Homo sapiens: one gene and its partners. The protein of the gene in region 1 purifies or fractionates together with the protein of each later gene. This does not show direct contact. Each region holds a gene or a part of one and is shown in the gene's direction. Other genes may lie near its edges.

Region 1 (5,658 bases):
GGGGTACAGGAGTCATCTCATGGGCTGTCGGCAGGCCTGTGCAGGGAGGAGTCTGGAGGGCAGGGGAAGGGAGGGGTACAGGAGTCACCTCATGGGCTGTCGGCAGGCCTGTGCAGGGAGGAGGCTGGAGGGCAGGGGAAGGGAGGGGTACAGGAGTCATCTCATGGGCTGTCGGCAGGCCTGTGCAGGGAGGAGGCTGGAGGGCAGGGGAAGGGAGGGGTACAGGAGTCATCTCATGGGCCCTTCCAGGGCTGGTGCCACTTTGGGAAGGTGAATGGATTCAGCTGGGGTTCCAGGCTGAGGGAGCAGCAGCCTGTGCAGGAGACAGGAAGGTGGGAAGCTGCTGGGCTTTGGAGGTGGTATAGGTGTGGGTGGGGCACCACGTGTGAGGAGAAGGGAGAAGGATGGGGGTGTGGGGGCGAGGTGGAGGGGCAGGGCCTCCCAGGTCAGATCAGGAATACTGATGCTGCAGTGGGAGGAGTGATAAATCCACAGGGACTGGCCCGGGGACGTAGCTGCACCCTTGGGGTCAGGGAGGCCTTTGGGGAGTGGAGAGTGGAGCAAGCAGTGCCAGGAGGCTGGTCCTGGAGAAGGTGGAGCTGTGGTCGCCTGAGGGATGGCGAGGAGGGGGACTGGACTCGCAGTCTGTGATGTTTTGGGGACGTGAGAAGGAGGCGTCTGGCTTGGTCTGTAAGGTCAGGGCACTTGCTGGTGAGGCGTGATTTGGGAGGGAGGATGCCCAGCTCGGTTCTGTGTGTGTCTGAGGTGTCGGGAAACATGCCCTGGATGTGTTCAAGCAGCTGTTCTGCGTCTGCGTCTGCAGCTCAGGAAATTCCTAAAAGCTGTGATGAGAGCAAGAAATGAGACCATGAAGTCAGTGTGTGCGTGACTGGATGTAGGCACCGAGGACAGAAGGGCCAGAAAGACCTGTGCTCAGAGGGGCCCAGGGCAGCCACAGGGGCCCAGAGCATGTGTTTGTTCAGGCATTCATTGTGTGCTGGGCCCTGCTCCAGTGCTTTGGACATACACGGTCAGATGTCAGTGTAAGAAGTTATATAGTTTGTTAGGAGATGATTGATGTTATGAGAAAGATAACAAGTAGGATAGAAAGGCTAGAAGGGTTGGGAACCAGCTGCAGTGTCAAGTCAGGCAGGTGGAGTTGGATCTAAGAGTTTACCGAGGTGAGGAGGGTCTGGCAGGGGACACTGCACAGGTGACAAGCAGCAAGGAGGGTGGGGCGAAGTCAGCATTGATGGCCACGGGGCTGGAGCAGAGAAGAAGGTGGGGCACAAGTGTCATCTCATGGGAGGCTGGCGCCACCTCAGAAGGTGAATGGGTTCAGCTTGGGTTCCAGGCCAGAGTCTGAAGTTGAGAGGACTCCGTTGGGTGCTGGGCTGTGAGCCCACCATGGGGGCAAGACTGGGAGCAGCAGACCCAGCAGGGCCCTTGTAGGTAATCACCGGCTGGCACTGGCTGGGGGCCAGGTAAAGCCAGCAGAGGCTGAGGGGTGCTGGAGTCTGGGTGTGTGTGAACGCAGAGTGGGTACGCTGGCACAGTGCATGGGAGGCCGTGGATTCCCAAGGACCCCAGGGCTGTGGCTGGAGCAGCTGGAAAGACGGAGCCGCCGCTTCCTGAGATGGAGAAGCCTGGTAGGTGGGTTTGGGGGAGCTCAGGAACTCAGCCTTGTTTCCACGGATTTGAGGATGTGCTGCGGACTGGAGGTGTTGAGCAGGTGGACATGAGTCTGGAGTCCAGGAAGGCCCAGAGGCAGGAGCTGGGGTGCTGGAGTGAGCAGACAGGAGAGCCCAGGGTGTGGACAGACATGAGAATGCCATGCTAGGCCTAGGATGGAGGGACAGACACAGGAGGAGCAGTCAGAGGGGCCATGGTGGTCAGCACAGTGTGGGCTGAGACCAGCTGACCGTGCTGGCCACCAGGTGTGGACACTTGGGCCACCAGCCATCTTTATTGTTGAAGTGAAATGAAAATGGCCTTTTTCCTGATTATAAGTGTATCATGTGTGTCTTTGAAAAGATTCGTACATTATATAAAGATATAAAGCAAAGGATCAACTTTTTAATCCCACCAACTGTTAGCATTTTATTCTGTGTCCTCTCAGCTTTCTTTTTTTTGTACAAATGCATACGTACAGATGGTAATTTTAAACTAAAAGTTGGACAGCACTGTACATTCTATTCTGCAGCCTGCTGTTTTCACGTAACAATGTGAGTCCATGGAGATGTGCTGCGTTGTTAATGCCAACAGTTTCCCTTACACGGATATGAGGTCCCAACTGAGAAACCCATGTCTGTAAGGCTGGTGCCATCATGAACTGAATGAGCTGGTGTCACGCACAGACTCTATCTCATGTGCTTTGTGGACGAAATGTTAATGTGTTTGACTGTGGAGTACCACTCCAGATCCCCTTTAGGTGTGACATAACGTGGGATGTAAACCATATGATCTTTTCTAAAATCTCAAAAATTCTGAAACATATTCAGCCACAAGAGCTTTAACATAGATTTTGTGGATTTAATACAAAATTTATGTAAGCAATTTCTTACTGATGGACAATGATAATAAATAGTATATAATTTTTACATTAAAAGTAATGCTGGGCCAGGCACCGTGGCTCACACCTGTTATCCCAGCACTCTGGGAGGCCAAGGCAGGAAGATTGCCTGAAGCTAGGCATTTGAGACCAGCCTGGGCAGTATAGTCAGACCTCGTCTCTACAAAAAATAAAAAGATAGCCAGGCATGGTCTGTGTAGTTGCAGCTATTTGAGAGGCTGAGGAAGGAGGATTGCTTGAGCCCAGGAATTTGAGGTTATAGTGAACTATGATCATGCCACTGCATTCCAGCCTGGGTAACAGAATGAGATCCCGTGCTGTAGTGAATATCCCTGTGTATCATCCTTATCTACTCATGCAAGTACTCCTGAAGGGTAAATGCTGTAGTGAATATCCCTGTGTATCATCCTTATCTACCCATGCAAGTACTCTGGAAGGGTAAATGCTGATAAATACTGAGAACTTGCCTTCCGGTGAATATCCCTGTGTGTCATCCTTATCTACCCATGCAAGTACTCCTGAAGGGTAAATGCTGTAGTGAATATCCCTGTGTATCATCCTTATCTACCCATGCAAGTACTCTGGAAGGGTAAATGCTGATAAATACTGAGAACTTGCCTTCCGGTGAATATCCCTGTGTGTCATCCTTATCTACCCATGCAAGTACTCCTGAAGGGTAAATGCTGTGGTGAATATCCCTGTGTATCATCCTTATCTACCCATGCAAGAACTCCTGAAGGGTAAATGCTGATAAATATTGAGAACTTGCCTTCCAGAAAGATGTAACAATTACACTGCCACAAACTGTGTTTTTATGTAGCCATTTTATCACATCCTCACCAAAACCAAAATCACACAAATCAAATTGGTTAAAAAATGCATGTGTGTGTGTGGAGGGGGGTGCGGATTTTGCCTTTCTGTAGTAAAGAATGAAGTTCATCTTTTCATGTTTATTGCCAGTTGTGTTTCTTCTCTTTGGATTGTATATTTGTACCTCTTGACCATTTTTCATTGGGTCATTATAAATTAGCAATATAAATTAGTTTTAATTTTAGTATAAATTAAATAATATAATTACATTTTAATGTTAATATAAACTTCTTTCTTTTTTTTTTTTTTTTTTTTGAGACAGAGTCTTGCTCTGTCTCCCAGGCTGGAGGTTCAGTGGCGCGATCTCGGCTCACTGCAACCTCCACCTCCCAGGCTCAAGCCATTCTCCTGCCTCAACCTCCCGAGTAGCTCGGATTATAGGTGCGTGCCACCACGCCCAGCTAAGTTTTGTATTTTTAGTAGAGACGTGGTTTCACTATGTTGGCCAGGCTGGTCTTGAACTCCTGACCTCAGCTGATCTGCCCGCCTCGGCCTCCCAAAGTGCTGGGATTATAGGTGTGAACCACCATGCCCAGCTGTTAATATAAATTTCATTATAAATTAGCATTATAAATTAGTTCATAAATTATATGTTTATAAATGAGTTTATCAATTAGCAATATAAACTATTGTCATATGTTGTAAATATTTTTGCAGTTTATGATGATGAGAGGTTTTTAAAAATTTTAAATTTTCTACATAGTAGTTTTATGTAGATACCGAGATAATAGTATTTACATAGTCAGATCTGTCATTTTCCTTTGCCTTATCTGACTTCAGTTTTTACGCCTAGAACGTTCTTCCCTATCCTTACTTGTAAATCCTTAGTTTTCTTCAAGAACTGTTTTGTTTACATTGAAACCTTTAATCCATTTGAATTTTTTTCAGTGGGAGGTAGGAATGGAGTATTTTCCTCCCAGATAATGAGCCAGTTTTAATGCCATTTATTAATGTATCCATTTTTTTACCTTGTTCCTCTTAAAAGAAGCTTTGAGAGCTGTATGAAGAAGCCTGATGGCACCGAGCTAGGCCTCTCTAGAGGCTGGGTGGGGAAGACCATGGAGAGACGTAACAGTAACTCCTGCTCGGGGGCACCAGCTCGTCTGGGTGCCCGATGCTGGTGGTGGCTGTCAGAGCAAGCAGGGCTAGCCAGAGGAGATGGACGAGTCTGTGCTGTTGTCCCTCTGCGTCATGCTGGGAGACAGCGAGGTGGGGAGGACAGGGAGAACAGAACGTGCTCACAAAGAGGAGGCAGGAAGGTTGGATCCCTGATGAGCCTTGGAACGGAGGTGGGGAAAAGCAAGGATGTGTGGAAACAGCAAGAAGTGGGAGAGAGAGAGAGAGGCGGAGGGGAGAAAACCGTCACGGAGGCCAAGCGGCAGGAGCTCAGCTGAAGAAATGAGATTGGTGGTGGGTTTTCCCTATATCGCAGGCTCTGACTGCCAATCTGCTGCTCCTCCAAGGCCTCGGTGGCTGTGGCATGAAACATCCTGAGGAGCTTGTAAAGTGGACACTGTGCCCCTCACGTTTGGCCCATTTTTCAGGTGGAGCCTTTTGCCAGCTTGACCGAGGCCGTGCGGAGCTCAGTTCCCCGACTGCTCATCAACCGGGACTTGGTGGGGCCCTTGGCTTGGCATCCTCGCAGCAGGGACGTGGCCCAGCTGGGGGACGTGGTTCACGGCGTGGAAAGCCTAGTGGAGCTTCTGGGCTGGACAGAAGAGATGCGGGACCTTGTGCAGCGGGAAACTGGGAAGGTACAGACTGCTGAGGAGGACCATCCAAGGGGCTGCCCTTCTCACTGCTCTAGGGTATGGTCCACCTGATATGGAGCCCCGTTGGTTAACACAGTAACAGTAATAGCTGATGATGCTGTGAATCCTGCACCAGGCACTACCTGGACCTGACTGGGTGTTACTTTCAATACCTCCATTTAGAGATGAGGAAACAGATGCTAACAGGCCAAGCAGGGACACGGTCCAGACACTCAGGGCTGATGAGTCTGTATTCTTAACAGACTATAGGCGTTACCTTCACTCCCTAAAATAAAGCAGCCAACAGTGTCCCTCTAAGGCCTGGTATGTGATTCTAAGATGATACGGGTTAAAGAACTTTGAGAAGCTAAAGTTCTCTGCATCTATGTGGGATGAAGGCTACATGAGTGATGCTTTTCGGAAGTAATTGGTATGAGAGCCATTGATCAATTATAATCCGCTGAG
Region 2 (4,579 bases), on another chromosome or scaffold:
GTGGGGAAGAATAAAGGAACTACCATGTTTTTAGTTCTTATATTTCATAGTGATTATAACTAATATAATTAGAAGATTAAAAAATATTAATACCTTTCTATATTTAGGTCATACTACTAGATATTACACTGGAACTTCAGAAGCAAATTATGTCTGAATTGGAAATTCTTTATAAGGTAATTTTTTCATAATTTTTATTTGTAAAGCATGCCTATGGTATTGACTTGCAGGTTTATAACTACTTTTGTCTTATTTTTGTTACAGTGCGATTCATCATATATCATTGGATTTTATGGAGCATTTTTTGTAGAAAACAGGATTTCAATATGTACAGAATTCATGGATGGTGAGTTTTCCCTTTTATAATACTTTTAAAATGATTTTTAGAGTATATAGTGCTTTAAAACCTGGTTTTGATATAGATATCAAATAGAATTAAAGATAATAAAATATGCTAATAATTACCTCATTTATACTCTAAGATTATTTCAGTGTTAGGGGTTCCTGGGGTTAAATATTTATAGCCGAACTGTAATTTTAAGAATTGAACTTCACTTTTATTGAAAATTTAAATAGAACAGATTAAATGCTAGTCTAATTGGTGGTTTGATATTTGATTCTTTTGCACAATCTGTCTTTACTTGCAAAACAGATGTTCTGTTCTTTTAATGTTTCAATAGCCAAAACAGATTTTCTTTTAAAGAAATCTATTAACCCAATGTCCTGTGTCTTTCAGAAAGAAATCGGTTCTTAATTGCAAGATAAGAAATTGTTTTTCAACACAGCTGTTTAGCCAAGATGTGTTTAATTTTCTTTGGACTTTAGCCCTTTCCTTCCCTCTCTATTTTTTTATTCATTTCTATTTTGGTAGTTCTTTCTTGACCTGAATATTACGGCAAAATACAGATTTCTAGGGACATATCAGTGAAATGATGTCATCATTATTATTATTTACCAATTTTAAATCTAAGCAGTCTTTAAATTTTACATATTCAGTTTTCCATAGTCTAGTCCATTAAAACACAACTTAAGAAAATATTGTTAGTTCCTTGTGGAGATTCTCAGTACATTACTAAAGCAATTAGTTTGTGCCCTGCAAAACTTTAATGAGCCAACATTGGTACCTTGATACTGTCATAAGGTGTACAACATGCTCTAAATTAGTTATAGTAGAATGTCAAAAATTAAAAATCTTACAGCCATATAGGTAAGTATGGTAACTGTGGAGACTGACCAGAAAAAGTGGATTCATTGAGCCAGTACATGTTACTGTGTTGTAACTTTTATCATTCTTTCTTTGAAGTCTTCAATTTTTCAGTTCTACTCAAACATTTTTGTTGAAACAGGGCACGGTGGTTCACGCATGTAATCCCAGCACTTTGGGAGACTAAGGTGGGAAGATTGCTTGAGCCCAGGAGTTTGAGACCAGCATAAGCAATATAGTGAGATCTCATCTTTACAAAAAAATTTTTAAAAATATGGCCGGGCACGGTGGCTTACTCCTGTAATCCTAGCACTTTGGGAGGCCGAGGCAAGCGGAGTTTGAGACCAGCCTAACCAACATGGCGAAAACCCGTCTCTATAGAAAATACAAAAATTAGCCAGGTGTGGTAGCGCATACCTGTAGTCTCAGCTACTTGGGAGGCTGAGACTGAGAATTGCTTGAACCTGGGAGGTGGAGGTTGCAGTGAACCAAGATCGCGCCACTGCACTCCACCCTGGGTGACAAAGTGAGACTCTGTCTTAAAAAAAATAAAAAAAGGAAAATTAGCTAAGCATGGTGGTACGGGCCTGTAGTCTCAGTTACTCTGGGGGCTGAGGTGGGAGGATTGCTTGAGCCCAGGAGATTAAGCCTGTAGTGAGCTGTGATCGTGCCACTGCACTCCAGTCTAGGCAACAGAGTGAGACCCTGTATCAAAAAACAAATAAATTAAAATTTTTTATTGAAATATAACTCAGATACCATAAAATTCACCCTTTAAAAGTGTACAATTCCATGGTTTTTGATATACTCACAAGGTTGTGTAGTCATCACCACTGTATAATTCCAAAACACTTTTTACCACCCCCAGAAAGAGACTTCCTACCTATTAGTACTCACTCTCTACTTTCTCTTTCCTCAAGTCCTTGGCAACCACTGATTTATCTTCTGTCTCTATGGATTTACCTATTCTGGACATTCCATATAAATGGAATCTGATAATATATGGCCTTTGTGTCTGGCTTCCTTTACTTAGTATAATGTTTTCAGTGTTCATCCATACTATTGCATATATGAGAACTTCATTCCTTTTTATTGCTGAATAACATTTCGTTGTATGGCTATACTACATTTTGTTTATTCTTTCATTAGTTGATGGACATTTGGGATAGTTCTACTTTATGCATAATTATGAATAATGCTACTCTATATATTTGTGTACAAGTTTTTGTGTGGACATACGTTTTCAGTTCTTTTTTTTTTTTTGAAACAGAGTCTCGCTCTGTCGCCTAGGCTGGAGTGCAGTGGGGTGATCTCGGCTCACTGCAACCTCCACTGCAACCTCCACCTCCTGGGTTCAAGCGATTCTCCTGCCTCAGCCTCCCGAGTAGCTGGGACTACAGGCGCGTGCCACCATGCCCAGCTAAGTTTTGTATTTTCAGTAGAGACAGAGTTTCACTGTGTTAGGATGGTCTCGATCTCCTGACCTCGTGATCTCCCCGCCTTGGCCTCCCGAGGTGCTGGGATTACAGGTGTGAGCCACTGCACCCGGTCAGTGTTTTCAGTTCTTTTGGGTATATACCTAGGAGTAAAGTTGCTAGGTCATATGGTAGCTTTATGTTTAACTTTTTAATAAACTACCAAACTTTTCCAATCTGTTTTACACCACTTTGCATTCATACCAGCACTGTATAAGGTTCCATTTTCTTCATATTTTTGCCAATACTTGTCATTTTGTGTCTTTTTAAAATTGTGGGCTTGTAGTGTGACATGGTATCCCATTTTGGTTTTGATTTAGGTTTCTCTAATGACTAATGATGTTGAGCATCTTTTCATGTGCTTATTGGCCATTTGTATACCTTCTTTTGAGAAATATGTTTTCAAATCCTTTGTCTATTTTTTAAATGAGTTATTGGGCTTTTATTGTTGAGTTGTGAGAATTCTTTATGTATTCTAATACTTGGCTCTTATCAGATATGGGATTTCCAAATATTTTCACTTATTGTTTATCTTTTCACTTTCTTTTTTCTTTTCTTTTCCTTTTTTTGAGCTGCGGTCTCATTATGTTGCCCAGGCTAGTTTTGAACTCCTGGGCTCAAGTGATCCTCCCACCTCAGCCTCAAGTTTTATTGTTTTAGCTTTTATATTTAAGCCTTTGATTTATTTTTGAGTTAATTTTTATATATGGTATGAGATAGGGGTCCAAATTTATTCGTTTGCATGTAGATATACATTTGTTCCAGTACCGTTTGTTAAAGACTGTTTTTCCCATTGAATTTTCTTGTTATACTTGTTGAAAATTGACCATAACATATATTTCTGTACTTTCAGATCAATGCGTATACATCTCGCATTGATCTAGTTGTCTATCTTTGTACCAGTACCACACCATATTTGATTACTTGTACTTGAAAACTCTGGATTATTATAGTTTTTAAGTTTCAAATCGAGAAGTGTAAGTGCTCCAACTTTGTTCTTTTCAAGATTGTTTTGGCCATTTTGAATACCTAGCATTTTCATTTGAATTTTAGAATCAGCTTGGCAATTTCTCCAAAAAAATCCAGCTGGGATTTTGATAAGAATTGAATTGAATTTTTAGATCAACTTGGGGAATATTGCTGTCTTAACATTATTTAATCTTCCACTCCGTGAACACAGATGTCTTTCAACTTACTTAGGTCTTCTTTAATTGTTTTTCAATGATTTAAAAATAATTTTTAGGGTATAAGTGGTAACTATTTGTTAAATTTGCTTCTAAGTTTTTTTAATGCTGTTTTTCTTAATTTCATTTTTGGATTGTTCATTGCCAGTGTATAGAACTGTAATTGATTTTTGTATATTGATCTTGTATTCTGCAACCTTGCTGAACTTGTTTACTAATGTTAATAGCTTTTTGTGGATTCCTTAGGGTTCTCTATATACAAGATAATGCCATCTGCAAATAGAGGTAGTTTTAGTGCTTTCTTTTCAATTCTGAATGTCTTTTATTTCCTTTTCTTGCTTAATTACCCTGGCTAGAACCTTCAGTACAATGTTGAATAGACTGATGAGAGCAGACATCCTTCTCTTGTTCCTGACCTTAGAGGGAGAGCTTTCAGTCTTTCACCATTAAATATGATGTTAGCCATGGGTTTGGAATAGTTGTCCTTTGTCAGGTTGAGGAAATTCCTTTCTATTTCTAGTTTGTTGAGTTTTTTTTTTTTTTAATTATGAAAGGGTATTAAATTTTGTCAAATGCCTGTTTTATATCTATTGAAATAATCGTGCATATTTGGTCCTTTATTCTATTAATATATGGTATACTATATTAATTGATTTTTGCAAAATGAACCAGTCTTGCAGTGTTGGAATTATTCCACTTAGTCATGATGTGTAATT
Region 3 (4,579 bases), on another chromosome or scaffold:
CCAGATACTCGGGAAGCTGAGGTAGGATAATCGCTTGAACCCGGGAGGCAGAGTTTGCAGTGAGCCGAGATCGCGCCATTGCACTCCAGCCTGGGCGTCGCAGCAAGACTCCATCTCAGACAAACAGACAATCCAGCTGGGTTCAGTGTTGTGCACCTATAGTCCCAGCTCCTCAGGAGGCTGAGACAGGAGGATCACTCAGGCCCAGCTCCTCAGGAGGCTGAGACAGGAGGATCACTCGGGCCCAGCTCCTCAGGAGGCTGTGACAGGAGGATTGCTCGGGCCCAGCTCCTCAGGAGGCTGAGACGGGAGGATCACTCGGGCCCAGCTCTTCAGGAGGCTGTAACAGGAGGATCACTCAGGCCCAGGCAGGAGACTGAGAGAGGAGGATCACTCAGGCCCAGCTCCTCAGGAGGCTGTGACAGGAGGATCACTAGGGCCCAGCTCCTCAGGAGGCTGTGACAGGAGGATCACTCGGGCCCAGCTCCTCAGGAGGCTGTGACAGGAGGATCACTCGGGCCCAGCTCCTCAGGAGACTGAGACAGGAGGATCACTCGGGCCTAGGCAGGAGGCTGAGACAGTAGGATCCCTCGGTCCCAGGCAGGAGGCTGAGGCAGGAGGATCACTAGGAGCCTGAGGCAGGAGGATCACTCCGGCCCAGGAGTTCATGCTAGAGTGTGCTGTGATCACTCCTGTGGATAGCCATTGCCTGAGAAACACGGTGAGACCCCATCTCTTAAAAAAAAAAATCCATTCTCCCATTTCTTTGGATAATTTTGTATGTAATTGTATAATTACTTATCATTAGGAATCTTACATCTGTGGCTATGGGAATGGCAGTTCCTAGGTGTCCATTCTGGCTAAAGGATATTTTATAACTGACAAAAACTGCATAGTGGTTCCCCACTTGTTCCCACAGGTGCATAAGCTGGAGCCTGAGGCGTGGAAACACGTGGAAGCCGTATATATAGACATTGCAGATCGAAGCCAAGTGCTCAGCAAGGTAGGATCCGTTTAAAGACGTGGGTGGCCTTCGAGACGCAGAAATGACTTCTCAATGCTAAAGAAACCAGGAAACCATACCCAACTTGGCACAAAAGGAAATTCTGATGTGTCTTGCTTGTTTTATTTTTAAAAGTGAGTATTAGGAGATTTCTTGTCTTGAGTTGGGGATGCCACCAGAAAATTAGTGGCCCAAATTTGTGTGCCCTGTTTGGCCTCTGAAAATTATTACTGGACTAAGTAGGTATTGTAGCTAGAGTATTTTGCCCTGCTAAAATGATGCTTAGCCTGAAAAATCGGAGCACCACTTCTCAAATTTATTTTTCCAACTCAGTAATTAAAAAAACATTTACTTCCTGCCTACTGGGTTGTGGAATATTGTCAGGATCTCTGGGTTCCAGGTGAGGGATGCAGAATGCAGGGAAAGACAGGTCCCCTGCCCTCCAGAAGTCGGTGGCGCCTTTTCAGAGTAACACACACTGGAGCAGACCCCTGGAAAAGGACAGTCCACTGGTGGACCATGACCTTGGTCAAAAGAGGGACCAGGTCTGGCTTGCTCACTGTTTTGCACCCAAGAAGTATTTGCTCAGGGAATGAGGGGGTTAGATTCCTCCTCATTCATTACCATTCTTACTAGGCAGAGGCCTCATTGGGATTAAAAGACAGGAATGTAACTCTCTGCCCACTGATAGGGAATGTGTGTTTGCTCTTTGTATCCCAGGGGTGTGATACCTCTTTCCTGTGGTCACTCTGCACTTAAGATATTTTGGGGCCTGGCACGGTGGCTCACGCCTGTAGTTCCAACACTTTGGGAGGCCAAGGTGACCGATCATCTGAGGTCCTGAGTTCGAGACCATCCTGCCCAACATGGTGAAACCCCATCTCTACTAAAAATACAAAAATTAGCCAGGCCTGGTGGTACGTGCCTGTAATCCCAGCTACTTGGGAGGCTGAGGCAAGAGAATCGCTTGAACCCGGGAGGCAGAGGTTGCAGTGAGCAGAGATCACACCATCGCACTCCAGCCTGGGCGACACAGCGAGACTCCATCTCACACACACACACACACAAAGTTATTTTGATTTGTGCATTTCCGAAAAGATATAAAAACCATCTTGTGCTTCCTTGCCCAATATCCCAACCCCCACCTTCAAAACGTTGGTGGATTTTTCAAAAAGCTTTTTATGGAAGTTTAACATATACAGCAAAGTGAATATAAGTATGCAGCTTGATGAATTTTCTCAAACTGGATACTAGCAAAAAGTATGATTCTTTGAGTATTTTGTCAACTCTGGTTGATCTGTGTGAGTGGAGGGAAGCAGTGATGGTGAATATTTATTTTTTAAAGCACACATAAATATAATCTCCTCAGAGGCTGGGCACATTGGCTCACGCCTGTAATCCCAGCACTTTGGGAGACCGAGGCAGGCATATCACTTGAGGTCAGGAGTTTGAGACCAGCTTGGCCAACATGGTGAAACCCCGTCTCTACTAAAAATACAAAATTAGGGCCAGGTGCGGTGGCTCACACCTGTAATCCCGGCACTTTGGGACGCCAAGGTGGGCAGATCACGAGGTCAAGAGATCGAGACCATCCTGGCCAACATGGTGAAACCCTGTCTCTACTAAAAATACAACAGATTAGCCAGGCGTGGTGGCAGGTGCCTGTAATCCCAGCTACTTAGGAGACTGAGGCAGGAGAATCGCTTGAACCCAGGAGGCGGAGGTTGCAGTGAGCCGAGATCATGCCTTTGCACCAGCCTGGGCAAAAAGAGTGAAACTGTGTCAAAAAAAAAAAATACAAAATTAGCTGGGCGTGGTGGCGCATGCCTATAATTCCAGCTACTTGGGAGGCTGAGGCAGGAGGATCACTGGAACTCAGGAGGCGGAGGTTCCATTGAGCTGAGATTGTGCCACTGCACTTCATCCTGGGCGACAGAGCGAAACTCTATCTGAAAAAAAAAAAAAAAAAAAAAATCGGCCGGACATAGTGACTCATGCCTGTAATCCCAGCACTTTGGGAGGCTGAGGCATGTGGATCACCTGAGGTCAGGAGCTTGAGACCAGCCTGGCCAACATGGTGAAACCCCGTCTCTACAAAAATACAAAAATTACCCTGGCGTGGTCGCAGGCGCCTGTAATGCCAGCTACTCAGGAGGCTGAGGCAGGAGAATCGCTTGAACCCAGGAGGTGGAAGTTGCAGTGAGCTGAGATCGTGCCACTGCACTCCAGCCTGGCCAACAGAGTGAGATGCTGTCTCAAAAAAATAAAATAAAAAAATAAGGCAGGGCGCGGTGGCTCACGCCTGTAATCCCAGCACTGTGGGAGGCCAAGGTGGGCGGATCACGAGGTCAGGAGATCGAGACCATCCTGGCTAACACGGTGAAACCCCGTCTCTACTAAAAATACAAAAAAAATTAGCCGGGCATGGTGGCGGGCACCTGTCGTCCCAGTTGCTGGGGAGGCTGAGGCAGGAGAATGGCGTGAACTTGGGAGATGGAGCTTGCAGTGAGCCGAGATCGCGCTACTGCACTCCAGCCTGGCCAACAGAGCGAGACTCCCTCTCAAAAAAAAAAGAAAAAAAAAAAAAACTTCTCAGCTTTGGGAAATACTTTATGAGAGAGAGAAATTTATTATCTTTGTTATTTTTGTTAAGTAGATGCTATAAGTTTGTATCTCCTGAGCCCACATTAGTCAATGTAGAGGGACAGCTGAAAATTAAACTTTTGTTGTGGTTAATTAACACAGGAAATTGACTGCATTATAAATCTGTGAAGTGAGACTCACCAGTAGTGGATAGGTTCCATACACTGAACATTTCCAGTAATGATTTTGTTAAAACAAGCCAGAGGGAGATTGCACTGGAAGATTTAAGGAATGACAGCCGGGTATTCTGAGCGCTGGCTGTATTTTAGAGTCACTTGCAGAGATTTAAAAAAACAAAAAACAAATCTGTGCTGCCGTCACCTGCAGATATTCTCAGTCACTGGGTTTTAGTTGGAGTGACTCAAAAATCTGTGTTTTAAAAAGGTCTTCCCTGGTGATCTGGATGCTCACCCCAGGTTGAAAGTCTCTGTCTTCAACACGGTAAATATGTGCCTGCTCAGACAGTCTGGTGATACTTTCACACTGGCAAAATGGAAAACAAACCCTATCGGAGAAAATCACATAGAACTCTCCTCTGAGGCTAATGTAAACAGTTCTACATCTTGTTTATAACATTTTCCCATATTTGCTTTGTGCCATCAGCATCAAGATCTGGTATGGAGTGAATGCTAATGAAAGATCTGTTCTCCCCATCTCTCACTCCCTCTCCCACTCCCCTCCAACCCCAATTCCACAATTTCTCTCAGGATTACAAGGCAGAGGAAGACCCAGCAAAATTTAAATCTATCAAAACAGGCCGAGGACCCTTGGGCCCCAATTGGAAGGTACCATTCACACCTTCACTGCCAGGGGGCTGGGCAGCATGTGGGTGGGCCGCTCCCTGTGGAGGAGGGGCATGGCTGGGGTGAGCTGGGGACGGCCTGAGGTCTGCCCGTTGTTACTTGCGTACCCATGGGTATGTTTCTAATGCAG
Region 4 (4,579 bases), on another chromosome or scaffold:
TGCTGTTTATTAGCACCCTTTGTGGCCAAGGGAAATAAAAGGTGGTAAAATTCAGTTTTCAGTTTAGTTCTTGAAAGCTCTGGGAAATGGAGGAAACACAAAACTATGAATTAAACTAGGGCTGTTGATTTCTGAACCCCCAGATAAATCAGTTGACCCACATTTTCATTTTAGGTGTTAGGTCCAAATTAGCATAATGTCTTGCATTATTATTAGGTTCAGTGTGAAACTTTACAGTGCTGCATTTGAAGTTTAGTAACTGGTTATTATTAATCATTTGGGAAAAATGAAAATGTGTTGGGACTTTCTATGACTAGGCATTTGTTGATTATTTTTCATGATTGCTTTTTGTTTTCTCATTGTGTAGGATTTGTGAACTTGTATATTACAGGAAACAAGATACTTTGTAAAATTTACTGGGGAAAATCCATTTGGAGTGCATGACATTTGCCAGGATAAGAAAGCAGTAATATGTTTGTATTATAAAATTACACCCTGCCAGAAAACTTTCTTTCCTAGTAAGGTAAATGTAGAAGGGACTTTTACAGCATAGTAAGTTGATTAGGAGCCAAAATTTTATTCCAGTTTTTTTTTGAACTAAGAATGTTTTAAATTCTGTAATGAACTTTTATGTTTACCCATTACTCATGCATTCTTTCACAATATGTTTAATAGCCTGAGGAAATAGGAAAGCTGTGAAGCTACTACCATTCTTTACTTTTAATAAGAATAATAGGAAAGAAAAGTCAGGTCAGTAATCCAAATCCAAATATGTATACTGCAAATGCTCAAGAAGTCACATTTTTTGATAAATTGTATTGAGTACAGAAGAACTTATATGAATTTATTATCTGTTAATAACTTAGTTTTGACAACAGAATAACATTTGGAAATTGTGAGAATAATCAAGCTGTTTTTCCATTAACAGTGTAAATTCATAACATGTCCTTCAAAAGGTGATATTCTAAGCTGTCTTAATTGTCTACGGTTGATAACTTTTAAATAAAGTACAGGACTTTCTGAAAGTGTTTGGCATGTTATGCTGCCAAAAACAATCTGTGTTTTGAAATACCAATTAATCAGTTAATTTCTGAAGACTTTGTATAGGACTTGATATATGAGTCAGAATCTGTCTGTACTCATTCTGTACATTGTAACTTTGAACACTTATGAAAAACTGTATCTGTTGGTGTGTTTTGATTAGTTAGTGTAGATTTGTTTGCGTATTTGAATTCCGATTTTAGTTTAGGAAGACTAAAAGTAGCCATTTTTGTAAAGTTCATATGCTATTTTTTAATGTCATTTTTGTTTTTAATATTTATACAATAGTGATGTTACTAGTAAAAAATGTTTATAGATAACACGTAGAGCTATTAACTGTTCAAAAGCCTACATGATAGGCATATTTTGTATTTCGTGTTGCACTCGTTCTGTTTCATATTGGACTTTTTACATCCCTTTTTTAGCAAAAAAAAGAGACACATTTGAATTCTCTTTAGCATAAAGCTGTGCATTGGAAACTATGTGACTGTATCCATACGGTTAGCAAAATACTCTTTGCCACCAAAGGTAAATGAAACTGTAAAATACCTCTGGATATTTGTGCCAATGAACTTTTCTTAGCATATTAGGATTAAAGCAAAAATAATCTTTTCAGTATGTTTCATCTAGGACTTACAATAAATGTTTAAACCATGAAAACTTATATTTCATACCCTAATTTTTCTTTGAAAATATTCAAGATTTGTAGCCTAGTGTGTTCTATTTTGTGTGATTGCTTGAATGTTTTCTGATTTTATTGGGTAAAAGTTTGCCTAGTAATGATCTTTCAGCAATTCATTGAAATAATTATTTGAAGTAATCTTGCTTCAGATTTAATTTGTGATGTACATTGTTGTACAAGCCATTTTAGTACAGGTGTCTCATTTATGTAGTTGAAAGGTGACTGTGGAATTTCTTTTGTTTTTTATGTATTTCCATTCAGTCTCTTTATATAGTCACATGTTTCACAGGGGAACTTGTCCACTGGAACCTAACATAGTACAACCTTTTAATATGCGTATCTTAAAGGAAAATATTATAAAACAAGATATTAATACTAAAGTGTTAACATTAATATGTTGTTCTCATGGAAGAAAAGTAGAAAATGTGATAGGCTTAGAAATTATTTTTTATCAGCATTAAGTGCTTCAATTTCTCCCCATAAAGATTCTAAGGAAATTTCAGTTCCTCATATTATAGTTTTCCCCATAATTTAATATTACTAAGTATTTCTCTGCCCAGTAATGTTGATGCAGTTTGCATAAATAGCCTTGGAAGTAAGGAGGCAGGACAGAAAGCCAAATATCGAAATCTCTGGCCTTGATTTAGTGACAGTTTATTCTAATGGGGACCATAGGTGTTATTAGTAAAAAGATAGTGTACAAGGCCTAAGTTCAGTTTACATTGTTCTTTGAAATGAGTTCATCTTTTGTGTTGAATAATTGTATTCTAAGTAGGAGATGCCTGTATTTAACATAATCATGCTTTCTATATAATCAAATATGTATTTGTTGGAATACTGGTAGAAATAACCTTCCCTTCCTCCACTGTGCAGTGGAAAAAAAACTCCCGATTTATACTGTATATAAATTAGGAAATTATGTTACATATTTACATTTTTAAAAATATAAAAATGACATATTATTTTGAAGTGATTGTATTATAGTTTCTGAAGCTTATGACTGGCTATAAATATAACAACATACCCATGAGAAACCAGACCAAAATTGAATATATATCATCACTGTGACCTTGAACTTATAGTCATTTGGGATAAAACAGAGTGTGCCTTGAAATGATAAAGAGTGCCCTGCAATTTTATAACTGTACATTTTATTATGGGTGGTCCTCTCAAATTGGCCCCAAATCCTTGTCTTCGAGGTTGGTGAAATAAAAGTTTAAAATAAAAGTTGACTGGTATTTCCTTTAGTATTTCCAGAACTATTGCTGTAGAGGCCTCCCTTAATTTTCAGAGTTCTCATTTTGAATTAAAGTAGACTTACGCTACATAGATGTAGAAAATTAGGTTTGGCTTAGGTTTCTGAAAAAATATTCTAGGAGAAGGTGGTAGCATTGTTCTGAACTTACCACACTTGGAAAAACTAATCTTCAAATGTAATTTTTTGTCTTATTAATGAGTAATCTGTCAAAGACATGAATTCTTTGACTTGTGCTCATTCTTTCTGAACTTATTGAGGCTTATATATATCAAATAAGGTTAATTTACACAATAATTATTTTTAATAATTAATAAACTCATTCATGTAGTATATTTTAAAACATTATTTCCTCTCATTTTTCCTTCTCTTTTTTCTTCCTATATATTTTTAAGGCTTCAAGAGAAAACGGGCTTCAGTTTTTAAAAAAATGTAGACTTGCATTTTTACTGTGCTTATTTAAAATAATGGATATAATTTATATTAAGGTCCAAATTATTTTATTCACAGGATAATCATGGTCTCTGATAAAAGATGCCCACATTTCTGTGTACTCACAGTTGTTGTATATTTTTCAATTTCAATTTTGAAAGTAAACTCAACACATTGTTTTCCCATTTTACCTCCACTACCTACTCGCCAGACAAAAATATAGATTTCTCTAAAAACACATACAAAGAAAATGTCTTTCCTTAAAACATGATCTTATTGACATGAAGGTAGTTTGAGCAAGGGTATGTAATAAAATAAATGGCTCTCAACCTGCATCAATTTTTATACTATAGTTAAAAAATTTATAGAGGACAACCTATGTGTTATGCTGAGATAGACTCAGTAATCATTTGTTTGCAAATTGATTATTTTTTTCTCATCCATCCAGAAAGTACAGTGCATAACAACAACACTTAACAAGTGCAGAGGAACCTGTCCTGTAGTATATAATAAAAAATGATTGTCACCTTGCTGATCTTTCCATTTAAACATGCATGATCTCCAGTACTTTGTACAATGTATAGTATATTAAATACATTTATGTGTAATTTTGTGTGTATTTTTATATGGTATAATTAAAATTATTACATTTATGTGATTGTAATTCACAAAAAGTACTACTTACTATATTCTGTAGAGTGTGTTGTGAATGTTTTTACCTGTGTTTGAGCATTATGGTGTAGGTTTAATAGATGAATATTTGCCTTCAGTCTCTGCTCAGGTATTAATGTGTAGTAATTTTTGGTGCTTTCTTTTTAATCTGTGATAATCTGGTGTTCTGAATGTTCAAAAATAAATTTGGTTGAATACGCACATGGTAAAAAGATTGCTTACCAATTGACATACTCTCTATAATACCATCTTGGTAAAAACTCTTTAAAAAGGATTTATTGGCCGGGCGTGGTGGTTTATGCCTGTAATCCCAGCACTTTGGGAGGCCAAGGCGGGCAGATCACGAGGTCAGGAGATTGAGACCATCCCGGCTAACACGGTGAAACCCCGTCTCTACTAAAAAAAAAAAAAAAAAAAAAAAAAAAAAAATTAGCCAGGCATGGTAGCGGGTGCCTGTAGTCCCAGCTACACAGGAGGCTGAGGCGGGGTAATGGCGT

What was found. Proteins that work in one complex are often made in the same cells at the same time.
Region 2: the proteins of SIRT3 (region 1) and MAP2K5 purify together in Homo sapiens (pull-down; one study listed by IntAct). This does not show direct contact.
Region 3: the proteins of SIRT3 (region 1) and PITPNA purify together in Homo sapiens (pull-down; one study listed by IntAct). This does not show direct contact.
Region 4: the proteins of SIRT3 (region 1) and PGAP1 purify together in Homo sapiens (affinity purification with mass spectrometry; one study listed by BioGRID and IntAct). This does not show direct contact.

Annotation. Positions count from the first base shown.
Region 1 is NC_000011.10:218,370-224,027, reverse strand, and holds part of SIRT3 (NAD-dependent protein deacetylase sirtuin-3, mitochondrial), read left to right. Parts: intron 1-4,427; exon of another isoform or gene 4,428-4,986; coding exon 4,987-5,196; coding exon of another isoform or gene 5,197-5,250; intron 5,251-5,658.
Region 2 is NC_000015.10:67,646,124-67,650,702, forward strand, and holds part of MAP2K5 (dual specificity mitogen-activated protein kinase kinase 5), read left to right. Parts: intron 1-107; coding exon 108-176; intron 177-264; coding exon 265-346; intron 347-4,579. UniProt on the Homo sapiens protein: Acts as a scaffold for the formation of a ternary MAP3K2/MAP3K3-MAP3K5-MAPK7 signaling complex.
Region 3 is NC_000017.11:1,535,293-1,539,871, reverse strand, and holds part of PITPNA (phosphatidylinositol transfer protein alpha isoform), read left to right. Parts: intron 1-919; coding exon 920-1,003; intron 1,004-4,353; coding exon 4,354-4,431; intron 4,432-4,579. UniProt on the Homo sapiens protein: Catalyzes the transfer of phosphatidylinositol (PI) and phosphatidylcholine (PC) between membranes. Shows a preference for PI and PC containing shorter saturated or monosaturated acyl chains at the sn-1 and sn-2 positions.
Region 4 is NC_000002.12:196,832,708-196,837,286, reverse strand, and holds the end of PGAP1 (GPI inositol-deacylase), read left to right. Parts: 3' UTR 1-4,283; downstream 4,284-4,579.